Linked DNA regions of Homo sapiens. The protein of the gene in region 1 purifies or fractionates together with the protein of each later gene. This does not show direct contact. Each region holds a gene or a part of one and is shown on either strand. Other genes may lie near its edges.

Region 1 (3,500 bases):
TGTAATACCAGCATTTTGGGAGGCCAAGGCGGGTGGATCACCTGAGGTCAGGAGTTCGAGACCAGCCTGGCCAACATGGTGAGACCTCATCTCTACTAAAAATACAAAAATTAGCCATGCCTTGTGGCATATGCCTCTAATCCCAGTTACTTGGGAGGCTGAGGCACAAGAATCACTTAAACCCAGGAGGCAGAGGTTGTAGTGAGCCGAGATCAGGCTACTGCACTCCAGCCTGGGTGATAGAGTAAGACTCTGTCTCAAAAAATAAAAAAAATAGTAACAATTTGCCCCAAACCATTGAATTGTATAATTTAAGTAGATGAAATTTATGGTATATAAACTGTTTTAAAAAAATAAATTATGCTTAACTGAATCCAAATCATGCATGTCCACCTTGCTTAAGAACATTATTGAGTTTTAATAATTTTTTATATGTGGAAAAAGACAGAGATCAAAATTGATAAAACCGGTGGCGGAATGCTCCTAGATGACATACTACCAATCAGGTCCCCTTATCAAGTAGTGGCTCTGTAGTAAAATCACATCTTACATGAGTGGTAGGTAGAAAGTGGATATGATAGAAAATATTATAGAAAAATATAATATAGAAAAATAGGGTAATTCCTTAAATTGCCCCTAAATCATGAAGGTTCTTTAGTAGTGGAAGACAGAGTCAGGTCTGATTTGGGAAAGGGGGCGTGGAGAAAGGAACACTGCAAGACAAAAAATTCCGTTTTAAAATTTTGCTCTCAGTAGTGTTCACTGAACACGAATGAAAGTTCACTAATGAATATAGGTAAGATATGACTTCTGTAATTCTTGTTTGCTTTTTGAATTATGAAGTATTTCAAACACTGTAGTTATTTTTTAACATAAGAGCTTGGACGGAAGTCAGATCTGAGTCTCCTTGAGTTAAATGCTTTGTTTGATTTGTTTTGACCCTAGGCATAACATCTCCAACCACATTATACGATAGGTACAGCTCCCCACCAGCCAGCACTACCAGAAGGCGGCTATTTGTTGAGAATGATAGCCCCTCTGATGGAGGGACGCCTGGGCGCATGCCCCCACAGCCCCTAGTCAATGCTGTCCCTGTGCAGAATGTATCTGGGGAGACTGTTTCTGTCACACCAGTTCCTGGACAGACTTTGGTCACCATGGCAACCGCCACTGTCACAGCCAACAATGGGCAAACGGTAACCATTCCTGTGCAAGGTAAGGAAGGCAGAGTTGGATATTGAGTTCCTTCTCTGTGGCATGTATTGAAAAGTTACCCGAGGTTTGGCTAGAGTGACATAGGGGACAGAGGAGTGATGGGGAGAGAGGGTTTGGGAGAGCAGAAATTGTAAACCTCTGCCCGGAGAACCTCTTATTATCAACATTTTCTTCATGCTTTTTTTCTCTGTCACTAGGTATTGCCAATGAAAATGGAGGGATAACATTCTTCCCTGTCCAAGTCAATGTTGGGGGGCAGGCACAAGCTGTGACAGGCTCCATCCAGCCCCTCAGTGCTCAGGCCCTGGCTGGAAGTCTGAGCTCTCAACAGGTGACAGGAACAACTTTGCAAGTCCCTGGTCAAGTGGCCATTCAACAGATTTCCCCAGGTGGCCAACAGCAGAAGCAAGGCCAGTCTGTAACCAGCAGTAGTAATAGACCCAGGAAGACCAGCTCTTTATCGCTTTTCTTTAGAAAGGTAATTTTTCACATACCTTATCAGAGCATGAGCTTGGGAAATACAAGTGTTAAACAAAGTTTGAAATGTTTTTATCTCCTAGGTATACCATTTAGCAGCTGTCCGCCTTCGGGATCTCTGTGCCAAACTAGATATTTCAGATGAATTGAGGAAAAAAATCTGGACCTGCTTTGAATTCTCCATAATTCAGTGTCCTGAACTTATGATGGACAGACATCTGGACCAGTTATTAATGTGTGCCATTTATGTGATGGCAAAGGTGAGTACCATTTGGAATTGTAAAGGCAAAGATAGGTCTTCATTACTGAGAACATTTTTTAACCACTGTCTTGAGATACAGTTTACATGCTCTATAATTCACCTATTTAAAATGCACAACTAAATGGGTCTTAGTATATTCACAGATATGTGCAATACTCACCACAATTTTAGAACATAATATTCCATTGTATAGTTATATGAGAGTATTTTTATCCATTTATTAGCTAATGTATATTTTAGTTGTTTCTACTTTTGGCATATATGCATAATACCACTATTAGCATTTGTGTTTGGGTTTTTGTATAGACATGTATTTTCATTTCTCTAGGGTATATACCTAGGAATGGGCTGCTGGGTCATACATTAACTGTGTTTTAACTATTTAGGGAATTGCTAGATTGTTTTCCAAAGTACTGTACCATTTTACACTTACACAGCAGTATAATAAAGATTTTAGTTTCTCCACTATCTCATTAACACTTACTATCTTACTTTGTTTAAATAACTTATTGAGGAGAAATTCACATAACATAAAATTAATTGGGTTTTTCTTTTTTTTTTTGAGATGTTGTTTCATTCTTGTCACCCAGGCTGGAGTGCAGTGGTGCATCTCAGCTCACTGCAACCTCTGCCTCCCAGGTTCAAGCGATTCTCCTGTCGTAGCCTCCCGAGTAGCTGGGATTACAGCCATGTGCCACCATGCCTGGCTAATTTTTGCATTTTTAGTAGAGATGGGGTTTGACCATGTTGGCCAGGCAGGTCTCAAACTCCTGACCTCAGGTGATCTGCCCACCTCGGCCTCCCAAAGTGCTGGGATTACAGGCATGAGCCACTGGGCCCAGCCAAATTAACTATTTTAAGTTGAACAATTTAGGAGCATTTAGCACATTTACAGTACTAAGTGTAATAAATGGTTGTATACTCACCACCTCTGTCTAGTTCCAGAACATTTCCGTACCTGCAAAGTAAAACTCCTTTCCTATTAAGTAGTTTCTCCCCATTCTACCTCCCACAGCACCTGGCAACCAGCAGTTGGCATTCTGGCTGTATGGATTTATCTGTTCTTAATCGTTTATAGAAATGGTACAATATGTGACCTCTTGTGTATGGCTCCTTTTACTTAGGATAATATTTTCCAGGTTTACCCATGTTGCAGCATGTATCAGTACTTCATTCCTTTTTATGACTGAATGATATTCCATTGTATGGATAGGCACAATTTTTTTCTCCACTCATACACTGATGGATATTTGGGCTGTTTCCAACTGTTGGCTATAGTGAATAGCACTGTTGTGAACAGGTATATCATGTACCTGTTTGAGTGCCCATTTTCAGTCCTTTTGAGTTTATTCCTAGGAGTGGAACTGCAGGGTCATATGGTGATACTATGTTTAACTTTTTTGAAGAACCACCGTACCATTTTCCACAGAAGCTGCACCATTTGACATTGCTACCAGTAATGCACAAGAGTTCCAGTTTCTCCACATCCTTGCCAACTTATTATTTTTATTATAGCCATCTTAGCGGGTATTGGGTGATATATCAT
Region 2 (3,500 bases), on another chromosome or scaffold:
CTGTGATCACATGCCTTATGTGTTTAACTTTTTTGTATTGCTCTTGAGAAAACATTTTTTTTCACTTTTAATTGCATTTATTTTAGTGCTGAATTTACTCCTGTGCCATAAGTTTTTGTTTCTTCAGTTTCTTCTGGGATATCTTTTTCTTCTGGGCAACCGCCTCTTCTGGTTTAGGAACAATTTGTTCCTTTTCACTAAAGATCATTTCGATGTGGCAGGGAGAGATCACGTGTGAGTTAATCCGACCATGAGCTCTGTAGGTCCGTTGGCACATCGTAGGTGCTTTGTTCACTTGGAGATGCTCAATGACCAGAGAATCTACATCTAAACTCTTAAGTTCAGCATTACTCTCTGCATTTTTAAGCATGTGCAGCAAAAATTCAGCACTCTTTTTGGGCCACCAACCTTGTGTCCAGTCCCACTGCTTGGCCTGGGTACACCTACCAACTCCACCATTGTAATGTCAGAATGGCACATGCTGTTTCTGTAAAGTGACATTTTAAAAATACTTCATGGTGTTTTTTTTTTTTTTTTTTTTTGGAGACAGAGGTTTGCTGTTGTTGCCCAGGCTGGAGTGCAGTGGCACGATCTCGGCTCACTGCAACCTCCACCTCCTGGGTGCAAGTGATTCTCCTGCCTCAGCCTCCTGAGTAGCTGGGATTACAAGCATGCCACCACGCCCAGCTAATTTTTTGTATTTTTAGTGGAGACGGGGTTTCACCATGTTGGCCAGGCTGGTCTCGAACTCCTGACCTTAAGTGATCCACCCACCTTGGCCTCCCAAAGTGCAGGGATTACAGGTGTGAGCCACTGTGCCGGCCACTTTGTGGTTTTTCATATATGCATACCCTTGATAGCCTGGGCAGTTTCACGAGTGTTCTTACAGTGAACACAAAGATTTGAACCTCTTGATTTGCATGATTTTGTGGGGTTTTCCAGGTAAAGTGAATAGCCAGCTATTTTCACAGATTACTTCAGACCACTTATGGGAAAAGCAACGTGGTTATCTTTTAACAGCAACCTTTGTAAAGTATAAATAAGTGGAACTAGAAAGCACTCCCTTGAAATCTGCAGGTTTGGATGATCATAGTCCAGGTTCCCACTGTGTTACTTCAGGCTTCTATTTATTCATGCAAAGGAAATTGTTTCCAAAAATTAAGGCAGAAGTTTTTTTTCTTATTTACTTTAAGAGCTTCTTCCAAGTTCTAATTAAAAGTTGCATTTCAATGTCTGAAAGTTGAATTTTATCTATGTGAAACAGAGTTTGTATATTACATGGATTGCACAATTTAAATTATGTTTTTTAGCCGGGCATGGTGGGTCACGCCTGTAATCCCAGCACTTTGAGAGGCTGAGGCAGGTCGATCACTTGAGGCCAGGAGTTCGAGACTAGCCCAGCCAACATGGTGAAACCCCATCTCTACTAAAAATACAAAAACTAGCCAGGCTTGGTGGCAGGCACCTGTAACTCCCAGCTACTTGGGAGGCTGAGGCACAAGAATCGCTTGAACCCAGGAGGTGGAGATTACAGTGAGCCAAGATTGTGCCGCTGCACTCTAGCCTGGGCCACAGAGCGAGACTCTGTCTCAAAAAAAAAAAAAAAAAAATATATATATATATATATGGTTTTTTTCCTCTCTTTCCATAGCTGGGGATGTTCAAAAGAAGTCTGGCTAAACATGTTAAAAAAGGAGAGCAGATATGTTCATGACAAACATTTTGAAGTTCTGCATTCTGACTTGGAACCACAGATGAGGTCCATACTTCTAGACTGGCTTTTAGAGGTATGTTACAGCAATACAAATTTCCTTTGTCTCTGTATGATGGAAACATATTTAGCTGTAAATGTGCTTTCTATGTACTCTCAAGAGTTTATTGTTCATCCCCAGGAAGCTGTCTTTTTTGAGGTACTTACTGTAGTTGATTGCACCCAAAGTGGAAAGTGACTCTATAAGAGTAAAACCATGACAAAGCTACTACATATAACTAAACCCAATTCAGAATTCCTGTTACCTGTGGATACTGCTGTGTACCAACCACTTTCTGGGTGCCACAGATACTCAAGGTGAATGGAATGTATAGTTGATTAGGTTTTGAATTATGCTATACAAAGTGAAGAACTAGAACTAGGCTTCAGGGCCCTCTGAAGTCTTTTTCTGTATTAACAAAATCATGATGATGAGGAATCCTGATTTCTATATCCTAAACCATAATGAGACTATGGATATCTGGAAGCTCTACGCCCTCTATTGTCCAGATACCTTCTCTTTATTATATTCTTCTATTCTTTTCCGAAATATACCATTAATTTAAAGGAATAGTGATCCTGAAGCCCCTATAGATTTGTGCCAGATTTTTCTCTCTTGTTTAGGTCCATTCCCTTTCCTCTGGATAATAGCTCTAAAAAAGTTTCTAAAATTATTATTAAGGAAATCATTACTTATGTTGATGACAAACTGATTTTTCCTCCAACTCTTGGATATTTGCTCTGTAGTCTGTCTTTAAGACAAGAGATGAAGCATTCTAAGGGAAAAAGACCATAGACTTTTTGGAGGAGGAACACATGGCAGAATAGATCTCAGAAGCTATCAGAACAGTTTTTAAGACTAAAATGTTATCCTTTTGCATCAGGTCATCTTTTTCCTTATTCTGACTAGAAGGAAAGATTGTATTTTAATTGTGGGCACAAGAAGGCATTGGGTTTTGACTTTTTCTGACTGTCTAGTGATCATGGAATCAACTTAAGCACAATTATGTTAATTTTTAATTTGTTTCCTTTTTGTTATACTGATATTCATCCAGTGGTTATCCAATTCAATTTGTTCCTGTTTTTACCTAAATATGATTATGTATGCAACAGCATACAGAATATATCAAATCCAGCAGTGTTAAACTCTATCTTAGTGTATTCTTCAGTCTAGGAATGCAAACTTGATTCAACATTTGAAAATCTATTAATTTATTACCTTAACAGTAAATAAGAAAAATGCTAAGATCTCAATAGATGCAAAAGACATTTTTTGAAATTCGACATTCTTTTTTTTTTTTTTGAGACGGAGCCTCGCTGTTGTCACCCAGGCCAGAATGGAATGGCACGATCTCAGCTCACTGCAACCTCTGCATCTCGCGTTCAAGCGACTCTCTTGTCTCAGCCACCCACATAGCTGGGATTACAGGCGCAGGCCACCACACCTGCTATATTTTGTATTTTTAATAGAGATGCGGTTTCACCCTATTGGCCAAGCTGGTCTTGAACTCCTGACCTCAAGTGATCCGCCCGCCTTGGCCTCCCAAAGTGCTGGGATTACAGATGTGAGCCACCGCACTCGGCCAGCAAAAGAGATTTTCTTAACTCATTATTAGAAACTCATGTGGCCAGGTGTGATGGCTCATACCTGTAATGCCAGCACTTTGGGAGACTGAGGCAGGCAGATCAGTTGAAGCCAGGAGTTTGAGACCAGCCTGGCCAACATGGCAAAATCCCATCTCTACTAAAA
Region 3 (3,342 bases), on another chromosome or scaffold:
GCCTTATTTCTCAGGTCTTCAATTATGTTCTCCTCTGCCTCTGACTCATTCAAAAGCATTACTGCTATTAGAAACAAACACACTTAGAAAGAGCCATCTTATGTTTCCCCTCCTGCTCTTGCACCCAACCCATCTCCCATCTTCACTGCTTGCAACTCTGAGCTCAATGACTGAGGCCTTCTTCTGTGTCTGGACCACTGGACTTGGTCATTAATCCTGGTGTCCTTAATGTTTAGACAGTGGTTTCCCCAAAGGACTCTAACCTAGACTATTCTGAATTGCTATGTCTTTGCTGCTGTGAGAAAGCAGCTCTAACCCATTTTTCATACAACCCCATCCCACTGACCCTCAACATTGGGTCTTTTTGAATGAAGGTTGTTATGTCCTTGGCTCCTTCATCCTGTCTATTTTTTCTGAGTTCTCACAAGTGAGTCATAATGCTCAACTCCTAGGAGTCAAGGTCTATGATCTGCAGACCTAATGAAATGACAACAAATGTATTGTTGTTTGGAAGCAGGTTTATTTATTATATACTTGCAATTGAATATAAGATACAGACATATATATGTGTTATGTATTTCTAGAAATGCACATAACATATATTTGCCTATTGTTTAATGTTTTTTCCAGATATTTATTACAGAAGGGCATGGAGGGATACCTACTTATTCTTCATTATGAGAACAATTAAAGGCATTTATTAGATAGGAAATTAACAGATCATCTGCTTCTATAACTTTATTAGCTACATTAAATAGGCAGTGAGCAATAATTTAAAAACTCACCATTATATAAAATAATAAATAACAAAGTAAAAGTTAATGTTATAAAAATAAACTGATAGTAAGGAAAATCTAAATGGGCATGATCCCATTTTAGAAGACCAAATGATTAATAGGGTTGTCATGTTATAATAGACAATTGTCTAATTATTTCTGTGTTTTTATTTAGTGGGTAGCAGAAGTTGTTCAGAAGAGCAGAAATATGTAGAAAACATCTCTAAATTTTTGGCAATTTGAAATAGCAATTCTGAGGCACACAGCTCATCTACAAAAATCTTTTGCAGAAGCAGCACGCTTAGTTTTAGGGTGAGGAAAATCTGCCGAAAAATAAAATGCAGTTGGTTATCTTATGCATAATAAGAAAAAGAAAAGGATGATCTGCCACAAACTGTGGGCCTCCATGTCCAGTTCTCCCTGTCATAACACCTCCTGTGCCAGCGGCTGCTTCAGTGCCCTCCTCATTCACATCCACCATGGCTTGGTGGAACACTTCAGAAAGAAACAGGTCATTCCTCTCCGACATCCCTGAGAAATTGGCCCGTCCCTTGTTGAAGGCGTCCTCCATGCCCATGCTTCTCAGAATGGATCTGAGTTCATAATGCTCTTCTAATTTGAACTGGGGTATGTATACCTCAACTTCATCTTCAGCCATTTTGTCTTTGCTGGTCCACTTGTTGAGTTTGTCATAGGTTATTTCACTTTCCAGCTGCAAAGCAAAACAAAACAAAACAAACAAAAGAAAATACAGCAAGTATTAGAAAGAAGGAAAACAACTTTAAGTCTAATATTAAAAATCAGTGACTTTACTATATTGTGGGTGATATAGAAAGTTAACAGATTGGTCAGATTTTTACAAGAAGGTAACACGTATGACATAGTTAAGGCTTTGAATGAAATGTAGAGGCATGCCATATTTACTATCAACTGTTTCATATATTTCCATGAGAAATTACCACACCATTTGTAAGGAGTATATATTCATCTCATCTCACGAAAGGTAGGTATAGCCCCAGAAACTTAAATATCTGAATGTCTTACCAGCTCCAAGCCAGTGGACACATCGGCAATTTCATCTGGAAGCAACAAGAACATGCTAACATCTCCAGCATATGGGAGTTCTAGAATCTGAGCCTTTAGGTCTTCTATGTATCCAATGTTTAGCTTTTCACGCAAGTACATCATCTGTACAGGTGTGCGCTGAGCCTAATATTATTAAAAGGTAAAATATGGAAGTCGATTATAAGATATCAAGAGATTTACAATTAGACATAAAGGAGGATTGGTTCTACTTTAGTGTAGGATAAATGTGATTTTTTTAAATCAACAAAATAAATTATTTGTACATCCTTACAGTGGGTACTCTGATGTTATTAGCTTGTTCAACTTTATACCCATTATTTAGTAAGATGGACAACAATGGTAATGACAACCATAATTCTAAAACACTTGTTTAGTTCTTACTATGGGCCAGGAACCGTGCCATGTCTCAATATTTACAGCCCTTTGAAATAAGTGGTAGAGCCAACGTTGGAGTCTGGGCATGTATAATTAAAAAGCCACAGTCTTCCCCTTTACCTATACTGTTTCTAAAGAGTCAATCAACTGTCCAACATGCATAACTTCTAACTAGCAAGTCTATAATGAGCGGTCTCTAATTTTTCTGTCTATATCTTGTCAAAAGCCCTAAAATATATGCTAGGAAGATGTATTTTGTTGTCTCATACCGAGTTTACACGGAAAGGATAAAGCCCATTTAGTTTCTTCTCAAATGGAGTTTTCCACTTTCCTTTGAAGTAGACAGCATTCACCAGGACCATCCTGGTATCCCCATCTACAGAACCTTCAGGTAACAAGTTTGGGATTTTGCCTACAGAAAACATAACATATATTTAGGTTTCATAATCAAGAACTGTGAAATTACTTACTGAATCTTCTGAGTAGCCATCAAACTAAATTCTTCAAATTGCAGAGTTGTTAATCTTCAAGCTAAAGTTTTTTAGGTTTATTTAAAGCAAAATTAAAATTGAAACAAATTTCCCAAAAGCTTGCAAAATCCAAGAAAAAATGAAGAAATAATGCATTTAAAATTTAGACCGCCTATCAAGTTTGGAATGGAGATTTTCACTCCCTTTTATATTCTTTTCTCAAAGCTTGGCAGTTGAAAGTTATTCAAATCAGAGGGAAGTGAAAGAGAGGTTCTTAGGGAATATAATAGTGCCTTTCCAAAATATATCATGTACTGCTAGATCTGGTCTAGATAGTCTGAGGATCTGACTTACTCATTTATTCAAAAACGTTTTGTAAAAAATATACTAGACCTAAATTAAGAGTAGTGCAGATACAAGAGATGAGAAAGGAAGAATTATCCTGGATGAGCCTAGAACACTGGGGGAGACATTCAAAATCAGTTGTGAAACCCTGTGTGATAACTTCTGTAATTGAGCTAAATAATATATTGAGTACTATGATCATACAGAGAAGGGAGTGAAGGAGTAAGCCCGAGAAGATTGACAGAAACAATGACAAATGAGTGTGGTCATTTAAAAAAATGAAATTGGTT
Region 4 (3,039 bases), on another chromosome or scaffold:
AAAGCTCTGTTTCTTTCAAAATCTATCTTAAACTGTTGCTAACTTGGAGAGTGACATAAGGAATCAAGTTATAAAACGGCTTCTGATTATCTTTCATGGCATATTGCATATATTTATAGGTATAGCAGACTCCAACATACCTTTCATTGTCACATTAACACCAGATGCTAAAAATAAGCCTCCAAACCGGTTGTTAAAAATCTGATTGCCTTCTAGTGTTGCAGTTGCGTGATTTGTAATTTCAATACCTGAAGTAAAATTTACAAACAAGTAGATACATCACTTTATACTGCTTCTTAAAAACCTGAAATTAGCAAGCAAATGTAAACTGCTTCTTTTATAGAAGTACATTAACCCTCTTAATGTCTACTGAATAAAATGTAGATACCTATTTCAACCACCAACAGTAACATTCACTTATCAATGACTATGGTCAAAACTGCAATTAACTTTCGCACCAACCTAACTGTCTTAAAGTTTAAATACATGATACTTGGATTTCATTTGCATCCATTTTAACATCTCTTTTTCTGTTGCAGATTTAAACTGGTAAATTCATCTGAGGAATTGAATCTATCTGTATTCCTAGTGGTAATACAAGCCTGCATTTATTCTATCCCAATAAATGTTTCATAATCACGACTAAGCAATAAGAGCAATATTTCTTAGGAGTCTGGCTTAGAGTAGAAGAATCCAGAACTTGATTAGGTGCTCTTGTAAGTGAATGAACAGGCATTCAGCCACTTCAGCACACTTTGCACATTTTAGTTAATAAGCAAAACAAAATGAATATACTCCACATCAAACACTTTGCAGAACTATATATAAGCCACAGGTAAGAAAAGAAAATACAAACCTGCGGCAAATCCATCAAATATTCTGTTTTTCCTTAAGATTGGATGACTATTAGTGCTGATGAGAACACCTGCTTGAGCATTCCTGAAAATATCATTTTCTTCAAGGAGACCTATAATAAAATATTTCCTTAGATTAAGGCTAATGCATATAACAGACTACTAACCTTTTTGGTGGTATTTAGGTTTGCTTTTAGTTTCTTATTTAACTGCATGGTAAAATTCACAGGACTATTTTTTCAGCCAAAACAAGTTTATTAGCAATTCAGAGGTATTAAGGATCTAACAAAATTGCTACAATGACAGGTAAGAGCATTCTGACCAATAATCTGCCATCTCCATGATAGCAGGGTCCATGTCTAAGTTTACTCAGCACTTCATCTTCAGAGCCAGGTGCATAGGTGATTCTCAATGAGTATTGCTGAATTAAAGCTAATTCCTTTGAAATATTTCTAGAACCTTTGTATCCTCTTTGTTTTTAGTTCAGGCAAGCAAGCCCTTATTTCTGGCCCTTATTACTATAATCATTTCCTGATGAGTTTCCTTTATTCCAGTTTCATCTGCTGCATAGTTTCCAATCAGTTAACTGCAACTCTTATCATGCCTCTTTCTCTAACAAACTACTTTCAGAATAAAGTTTAATATCACCTTGCCTTTCAAAATATCCCTCCAACCTACTTGTTTGTCTTAATGTGAGACATGGTTTTATTTCTGTAGACATTTAATCCCTCTGGTATTTCACATTATTGACCTAAACTTTCACCTGGATGAGTGGGAAAAATCTGACTCAGTAACTTCTTGGGGTCCTCCTCCTGTTCACTCCCTGGGTATTAATATTTCTGGGTTCTGTCCCTCATTTCCCTCTGCATACTCTTTGGGTGATCTTACATCTTGCAACTATTGCATATACACTGTTGCTTTTTAATTTTTGAGACAGAGTCTCACTCTGCCACCCAGGCTGGAGTGCAATGGTGTGATCTTGGCTCACTGCAACCCCTGCCTCCGGGTTCAAGCAATTCTCCTGCTTCAGCCTCCCAAGCAGCTGGGATTACAAGCACCTGCCACCACACCTGGCTAATTTTTGTATTTTTAGGTTTCACCATGTTGGCCAGGCTGGTCTCAAACTCCTGACCTCAAATGATCCACCCACCTGGGCCTCCCCCAAAGTGCTGGGGTTACAGGCATGAGCCACTGCACCCGGCCACTGTTGCTAATTCTTTAATCTATTCCTTTAGCTTAGTATAATGAATCACATTCTGGTCATAACCAATTTGGATATTCCAGAAGACAACCTTGGATTCAGTGTTTAAAAACTGACCTTACTAATGTTTTCCAGAAACCATTTCCTATATAACTTACCTCAGTGAAAGGTAGTCACCCACCCAAATCAGAATCCTGAGCACCCATCATATTTCACTTTACTTTCAACCCCCATATTAAATCAATGACCCAGTCCTGTTGGTTCCACCCTTTTTATAGAGATACGGTCTTACTACATTGCCTAGGCTGGTTTCCAACTCCAGACTCAAGTGATACTCCTGCCTTAGCCTCCAGAGCAGCTGGAAGTACAGGTGTGAGCCACTGTGCCCAGTTGGTTCTGTCCTTTTAAGTATCATTAACATGTCCCACCCCCTGCCCCCCCAACCTTTTCACACCCTTATGCTATCATTTTAGTTTAGGCTCTCATTATTTATTGCCTGAGTTATTCCAAGTCCCTGTCTCTAATCTTGATTATTTCCACTACACCTCAAGTGCTATTGCTAAGATGGATTCCAAACTCCTTACTGCATATGGAAAACCTCATGATTTGGGCCTTGCCCCTTCTGTAGCCTCAATTTTCTGTACCTCTTCCCTTACTTTCAGTTTCCTCTAGACTTTTGTTTACGATGTGCTCCACTCCATCACACTATACATTTTATGGATGTGCTGTTTCATTTAGCATATCTCTAGCATCTGTATCATAGTAGTTGGTACAGAGGTGTTAAATCAGTATCTAAAGAATAAAAGTGAAATAACATCTGGAATGGTCTGTTCGCCTCTCCCAAACCCAATTGCCAGTAAATATCTACTCATTTTTCAAAACACGGCTCAAAAGTGATTTGACTTGCGTGAACCATTTCTCAACACCTTGCAAATAAACCATTCTGTATTGTGTGTCTTCACTATATTTTGTGAAAACTATCTG
Region 5 (3,500 bases), on another chromosome or scaffold:
AACAAAATTGATAGACCGCTAGCAAGACTAATAAAGAAAAAAAGAGAGAAGAATCAAATAGACACAATAAAAAATGATAAAGGGGATATCACCACCAATCCCACAGAAATACAAACTACCATCAGAGAATACTACAAACACCTCTACGCAAATAAACTAGAAAATCTAGAAGAAATGGATACATTCCTCGACACATACACTCTCCCAAGACTAAACCAGGAAGAAGTTGAATCTCTGAATAGACCAATAACAGGCTCTGAAATTGTGGCAATAATCAATAGCTTACCAACCGAAAAGAGTCCAGGACCAGATGGATTCACAGCAGAATTCTACCAGAGGTACAAGGAGGAACTGGTACCATTCCTTCTGAAACTATTCCAATCAATAGAAAAAGAGGGAGTCCTCCCTAACTCATTTTATGAAGCCAGCATCATCCTGATACCAAAGCCGGGCAGAGACACAACCAAAAAAGAGAATTTTAGACCAATATCCTTGATGAACATTGATGCAAAAATCCTCAATAAAATACTGGCAAACCGAATCCAGCAGCACATCAAAAAGCTTTTCCACCATGAGCAAGTGGGCTTCATCCCTGGGATGCAAGGCTGGTTCAATATACACAAATCAATAAATGTAATCCAGCATATAAACAGAGCCAAAGACAAAAACCACATGATTATCTCAATAGATGCAGAAAAAGCCTTTGACAAAATTCAACAACCCTTCATGCTAAAAACTCTCAATAAATTAGGTATTGATGGGACGTATTTCAAAATAATAAGAGCTATCTATGACAAACCCACAGCCAATATCATACTGAATGGGCAAAAACTGGAAGCATTCCCTTTGAAAACTGGCACAAGACAGGGATGCCCTCTCTCACCGCTCCTATTCAACATAGTGTTGGAAGTTCTGGCCAGGGCAATCAGGCAGGAGAAGGAAATAAAGGGTATTCAATTAGGAAAAGAGGAAGTCAAATTGTCCCTGTTTGCAGACGACATGATTGTTTATCTAGAAAACCCCATCGTCTCAGCCCAAAATCTCCTTAAGCTGATAAGCAACTTCAGCAAAGTCTCAGGATACAAAATCAATGTACAAAAATCACAAGCATTCTTATACACCAACAACAGACAAACAGAGAGCCAAATCATGGGTGAACTCCCATTCACAATTGCTTCAAAGAGAATAAAATACCTAGGAATCCAACTTACAAGGGATGTGAAGGACCTCTTCAAGGAGAACTACAAACCACCGCTCAAGGAAATAAAAGAGGACACAAACAAATGGAAGAACATTCCATGCTCATGGGTAGGAAGAATCAATATCGTGAAAATGGCCATACTGCCCAAGGTAATTTACAGATTCAATGCCATCCCCATCAAGCTACCAATGACTTTCTTCACAGAATTGGAAAAAACTACTTTAAAGTTCATATGGAACCAAAAAAGAGCCCGCATTGCCAAGTCAATCCTAAGCCAAAAGAACAAAGCTGGAGGCATCACACTACCTGACTTCAAACTATACTACAAGGCTACAGTAACCAAAACAGCATGGTACTGGTACCAAAACAGAGATATAGATCAATGGAACAGAACAGAGCCCTCAGAAATAATGCCGCATATCTACAACTATCTGATCTTTGACAAACCTGAGAAAAACAAGCAATGGGGAAAGGATTCCCTATTTAATAAATGGTGCTGGGAAAACTGGCTAGCCATATGTAGAAAGCTGAAACTGGATCCCTTCCTTACACCTTATACAAAAATCAATTCAAGATGGATTAAAGATTTAAATGTTAGACCTAAAACCATAAAAACCCTAGAAGAAAACCTAGGCATTACCATTCAGGACATAGGCATGGGCAAGGACTTCATGTCCAAAACACCAAAAGCAATGGCAACCAAAGCCAAAATTGACAAATGGGATCTAATTCAACTAAAGAGCTTCTGCACAGCAAAAGAAACTACCATCAGAGTGAACAGGCAACCTACAACATGGGAGAAAATTTTCGCAACCTACTCATCTGACAAAGGGCTAATATCCAGAATCTACAATGAACTCCAACAAATTTACAAGAAAAAAACAAACAACCCCATCAAAAAGTGGGCAAAGGACATGAACAGACACTTCTCAAAAGAAGACATTTATGCAGCCAAAAAACACATGAAGAAATGCTCATCATCACTGGCCATCAGAGAAATGCAAATCAAAACCACTATGAGATATCATCTCACACCAGTTAGAATGGCAATCATTAAAAAGTCAGGAAACAACAGGTGCTGGAGAGGATGTGGAGAAATAGGAACACTTTTACACTGTTGGTGGGACTGTAAACTAGTTCAACCATTGTGGAAGTCAGTGTGGCGATTCCTCAGGGATCTAGAACTAGAAATACCATTTGACCCAGCCATCCCATTACTGGGTATATACCCAAAGGGCTATAAATCATGCTGCTATAAAGACACATGCACACGTATGTTTATTGCGGCACTATTCACAATAGCAAAGACTTGGAACCAACCCAAATGTCCAACAATGATAGACTGGATTAAGAAAATGTGGCACATATACACCATGGAATACTATGCAGCCATAAAAAATGATGAGTTCATATCCTTTGTAGGGACATGGATGAAATTGGAAACCATCATTCTCAGTAAACTATCGCAAGAACAAAAAACCAAACACCGCATATTCTCACTCATAGGTGGGAATTGAACAATGAGATCACATGGACACAGGAAGGGGAATATCACACTCTGGGGACTGTGGTGGGGTCGGGGGAGGGGGGAGGGATAGCATTGGGAGATATACCTAATGCTAGATGACACATTAGTGGGTGCAGCGCACCAGCATGGCACATGTATACATAGGTAACTAACCTGCACAATGTGCACATGTACCCTAAAACTTAGAGTATAATAAAAAAAAAAAAAAAAGAAGAAAAGTACAATTGTTCCAATAGAAAAATGTGAGAAAGGACTGAACAGACAAATCATTAAAGCAGGAGTCAGCAAACATTTTCTATAAAGAGCCAGATGGTAAATATTTTCAAACTTTGTGGGCTATATGAGTGAATGGAGCTATAGACAATATGTAACAACATGGACAGCATGTGTTCTGAAACAGGCATTACAAAACCAAGCACCAGATTTGACTCATCAACCATAGTTTGGTAGTCCCTGCATTAAAGAAACATAGATGTCTAACAAATATAGAAAGTATTCTTATTAGCCTTAGTAAGCAAATAAGTTAAAATTATTACAAGATAGCAGTTCCACTTTAGTTACCAAATTAGAAAAAAATATATTTTAAAAATAAGAATACTCCATTTTGATGGACACATATGTACTGTTGGAGGGAATGAAGATAAGTAGACTTTCTAAAAAGTAATTTGATTATGTATATCAGAACTCTTAAAAGTTTATATCTTTGAAATTTCTAAATACAAAGATACGAACTTTTAAGAAATGTAATATACATTCTATTTCTAAATTATA
Region 6 (3,500 bases), on another chromosome or scaffold:
CTGGAGTGCAGTGGCACAATCTTGGCTCACTGCAACCTCCACCTCCTGGGTTCAAACAATTCTCCTGTTTTAGCCTCCTGAGTAGCTGGGATAACAGGCATGCACCACCACGCCCAGCTAATTTTGTATTTTTAGTAGAGACGGGGTTTCACCATGTTGGCCAGGCTGGTCTTGAACTCCTGACCTCAAATAATCCACTCACCCCGGCCTCCTAAAGTGCTGGGATTACAGGCGTGAGCCACCACGCCCAGCCACTACCCATTTTTCAAGGTAGTTGAAACTTGTACAAACCTTTCCCAATAAACAAAAAATGTGTAATCCATCCACGTTTAGTATGCATCAGTGTCACTTGGTTGGTGAACATGCAGATTCTCAGGCTCAGACCCAGAGTCTCTGATTCAGAAAGTTGGCATTAAGGCCTAGAATCTGCATTTTAAGGCGTGATCCCTCCTTCAACCCAGATGACTCTAATGCAAGTGGTCTGTGAACTGTATTTTAAGAAACACTGTATAATACCAGAAATGTACCTTTGTTACCACACACTCCACATTGCCTTATATTATTCATTTGTGTTGTCTTATGTACATTTCTCTCAATAAATTGTCAGCTCCTTAAAGGCAGGCATGAGTCCTATTGATCTTTGTGTTCCTGGTGCCCATTACAGTGCCTGGCAAGTAGACACCCAGCTAACTCTTAGGTTGGTACAAAAGTAATTGCAGTTTTTGCCATTAAAAGTAAGCAGGAGACAGACAAGAAATAAACAGGATGTCAGATGCAATGCATAATCCTTGACTAGATCTAGGATTGACTAGATCTAGGTGAAAAGTACTACAGATAATAAGATATAAAGAGGATAGGAGCCAGTAGAGTGAGTCTCCTTTATTGGCAAAAACCACAGTTATATTTGCAGAGAGCAGTCTCCCTCAGCAAAGACTGGGATAAGGAAAGACACATAGTAGTAATAATTTCAAGGGGCCTTTGTGCCAAGAAAGAGTTAGGGTTGGTATTTTGTTCTTGGGCCTGAACTTTTTTCCCCATTTATTTTGAAAAATATCAAACCTACAGAAACGTTGAAAGAACAAGCACCTAGGCCGGGCACGGTGGCTCACACCTGTAATCCCAGCACTTTGTGAGGCCAAGGCAGGCAGATCACCTGAGGTCAGGAGTTCAAGACCAGCCTGACCAATATGGTGAAGCCCCGTCTCTACTAAAAATACAAAAATTAGCCAGGTGTGGTGGCAGGCGCCTGTAGTCTCAGCTACTCGGGAGGCTAAGACAGGAGAATTGCTTGAACCTGGGAGGCAGAGGTTGCAGTGAGCCGATATTGTGCCACTGCACTCCAGCCCGGGCAACAGAGGGAGGCTCTGTCTCAAAAAAAAAAAAAAAAAAAAAAAGAACAAGCACCTAGATTCATTAATTTTGTCACATTTCACCCGTACTTTAGCATGTATCTCCTGAGAAAGCCACTCCCTTAACCATGGTACCACTATTACACCCAATAAATTTCACATTGATACAGCAATATTATCTGTATTCATTTTTCCCCAACTGTACCAAAAATGTCCTTTAAAACATTCTGCAATCCTAGATCTAGTCAAGGATTATGCATTGCATTTTATTTTCATGGCTCTTCAGTCACTTTAAAATTTTTTTGTTTTAAATGACATTAACATTGTTTAAGAGTGTAGGCCAGTTGTCTTGTACATTATCCTCTAAATAGGATTGTCTGTTTCCTCCTAACTAGACTGAGGTAAACATTTCTGGCAAGGATACTGCATAGGTGATGCTGTGTCCTTCCCATGCCATTACATCAGGGGACACATGATGCCAGTCTATTATTGGTGAGATTAAGTTTGATCATTTGCTTAAAGTGATATCCACCTGATTTCTCCATTGGAAAGGCACGATTTCCCTTTCATGATTAGAGTCATCTGTAGGGTAGTCCTCTATGATTTTGTCAATAGGAAATTCTACAACCTTAACCCAATCGTTTTGGCATCCATTTTTCTCCTTGCCTCCCTTAACTTTAGAAGTCAATTCTTAGAAGGTTGCTAAGAATCCTGCAGTGAGTTCAAGGATCTTTAAAAGCAGGCACACCTTTACTAATCAATGGCTTGAGAAAAATGCAGTTGGCCTTGAGTTGGAACAGAATTCAATAATACAAGGAGCTCTTCCTTTTCCAGACAACCCCTGGCAGCATATAACATTCTTACACTGGGAGTGTACCATAATTTTGTGGTTCCATCCTGAAATACTCTTGTAACTTTAATCAGTGTGGCTGAAAGGTTATGAAATTTGGCAAGATTCCCTGACATGCAATTCATGTGACAGCCTAAGTGACTGCTTGGGACAAATAAAAACTATTATCCTTTGTCATTTTGCCTAGCAAATATGAAAGAAACTCAACCCTTATAGGCTAAACTTAGCTTATTCAGCCAGCTAAGTCCCTACCCACTAGGCCTTATAAGGCTAAAAGGGGAGATGTAATATTCTAATGAGAGCAGTAGGGATGTGCATACGAATCCTAAGGACTGGGGATTCGCAGGTGAGTAACACTGCAGACACAATCTACCATATGCCAGGCTCTCTTCTAGGCAATGGGGTTTCAGTGCCAGAGTGAACAAAGCCCTGCCTTCATGGAGTCTACATTCTATTGGCAGGAGACAGACAAGAAATAAACAGGATGTCAGATGGTAAAAAGTGCTGCAGATAATAAGATATAAAAGAGATAGGAGCCAGTAGAGTGAGGAAGCCATTTCATATGGAGTGATTAGAGAAGGCTTCACCAAAAGGGGACATTTGAGCAGACACTTCAAGGGGAATAGAAAGCCATGCAGTGTCTAGGGCCAGAGTATCCCAGGTAGAAGGATGAGAGCAGGCTAAGATGTGCATGTACTTGGCATGTTCCAGGAACTGCAATGAGGTCAGTAAACCTGGCTGGGAGGAGAGAAGGAGAGTCTGTAGAGACAGAATCAGAGCTGACTGATGGGAAGCTACTGGGGTTTGCAGCCACTTATGCTTTAAAAGGATCACTGCATCTCAATAAGAGCAGATTTTTTGTTTTCTTTCAATCCACTAGCAAAACCAGGAAGGAATTAGGACAGATTATGTTACCACTTTAGAGGTCAGCACTGTTTCCTCTGCAACAGAAATTTAAGATATACGCAAGGTATTTCTCAAGCAAGCATGACTGGAGCCCACAAAGGGGATAGCAGTTTAACAAAGATCGCACCTCATGGCCGCGATGGCCCCAGAACTGTGGCCAATGATGATAGTCTTCTCATCACAGTGCAGCTCTGTCTCCATGAAGGGCAGCCAGATGCTCTCTCGTGCTGTAACTTAAGGTTCAGGGTAAAGAAAAAGTCTGTCATTTGATAGTGGCAGTCTGAATCCAACGCTGCCCCACCTTTCAAACAGGCAACTATTCAGCAGTTCACAACTTTTAAAACTGCAGGACCACAGCAGGAGACCAGACTGTATTAACAAAACCAAAGATTTAT

The links.
Region 2: the proteins of RBL2 (region 1) and CCNE2 purify together in Homo sapiens (co-immunoprecipitation; one large-scale study listed by IntAct). This does not show direct contact.
Region 3: the proteins of RBL2 (region 1) and SERPINB2 purify together in Homo sapiens (affinity purification with western blotting; one study listed by BioGRID). This does not show direct contact.
Region 4: the proteins of RBL2 (region 1) and FBXO11 purify together in Homo sapiens (co-immunoprecipitation; one large-scale study listed by IntAct). This does not show direct contact.
Region 5: the proteins of RBL2 (region 1) and TMLHE purify together in Homo sapiens (co-immunoprecipitation; one large-scale study listed by IntAct). This does not show direct contact.
Region 6: the proteins of RBL2 (region 1) and RBBP9 purify together in Homo sapiens (affinity purification with western blotting, with the first as the bait; one study listed by BioGRID). This does not show direct contact.

What each region holds. Positions count from the first base shown.
Region 1 is NC_000016.10:53,468,971-53,472,470, forward strand, and holds part of RBL2 (retinoblastoma-like protein 2), read left to right. Parts: intron 1-945; coding exon 946-1,215; intron 1,216-1,412; coding exon 1,413-1,693; intron 1,694-1,775; coding exon 1,776-1,952; intron 1,953-3,500. UniProt on the Homo sapiens protein: Key regulator of entry into cell division. Directly involved in heterochromatin formation by maintaining overall chromatin structure and, in particular, that of constitutive heterochromatin by stabilizing histone methylation.
Region 2 is NC_000008.11:94,888,702-94,892,201, reverse strand, and holds part of CCNE2 (G1/S-specific cyclin-E2), read left to right. Parts: intron 1-1,651; coding exon 1,652-1,787; intron 1,788-3,500. UniProt on the Homo sapiens protein: Essential for the control of the cell cycle at the late G1 and early S phase.
Region 3 is NC_000018.10:63,901,047-63,904,388, reverse strand, and holds the end of SERPINB2 (plasminogen activator inhibitor 2), read right to left. Parts: intron 2,650-3,342; coding exon 2,507-2,649; intron 1,986-2,506; coding exon 1,821-1,985; intron 1,489-1,820; coding exon 1,084-1,488; 3' UTR 501-1,083; downstream 1-500. UniProt on the Homo sapiens protein: Inhibits urokinase-type plasminogen activator. The monocyte derived PAI-2 is distinct from the endothelial cell-derived PAI-1.
Region 4 is NC_000002.12:47,809,460-47,812,498, forward strand, and holds part of FBXO11 (F-box only protein 11), read right to left. Parts: intron 968-3,039; coding exon 857-967; intron 643-856; exon of another isoform or gene 540-642; intron 249-539; coding exon 141-248; intron 1-140. UniProt on the Homo sapiens protein: Substrate recognition component of a SCF (SKP1-CUL1-F-box protein) E3 ubiquitin-protein ligase complex which mediates the ubiquitination and subsequent proteasomal degradation of target proteins, such as DTL/CDT2, BCL6, SNAI1 and PRDM1/BLIMP1.
Region 5 is NC_000023.11:155,515,453-155,518,952, reverse strand, and holds part of TMLHE (trimethyllysine dioxygenase, mitochondrial isoform 1 precursor), read left to right. Parts: intron 1-3,500. UniProt on the Homo sapiens protein: Converts trimethyllysine (TML) into hydroxytrimethyllysine (HTML).
Region 6 is NC_000020.11:18,490,726-18,494,225, forward strand, and holds part of RBBP9 (serine hydrolase RBBP9), read right to left. Parts: intron 3,339-3,500; coding exon 3,233-3,338; intron 1-3,232.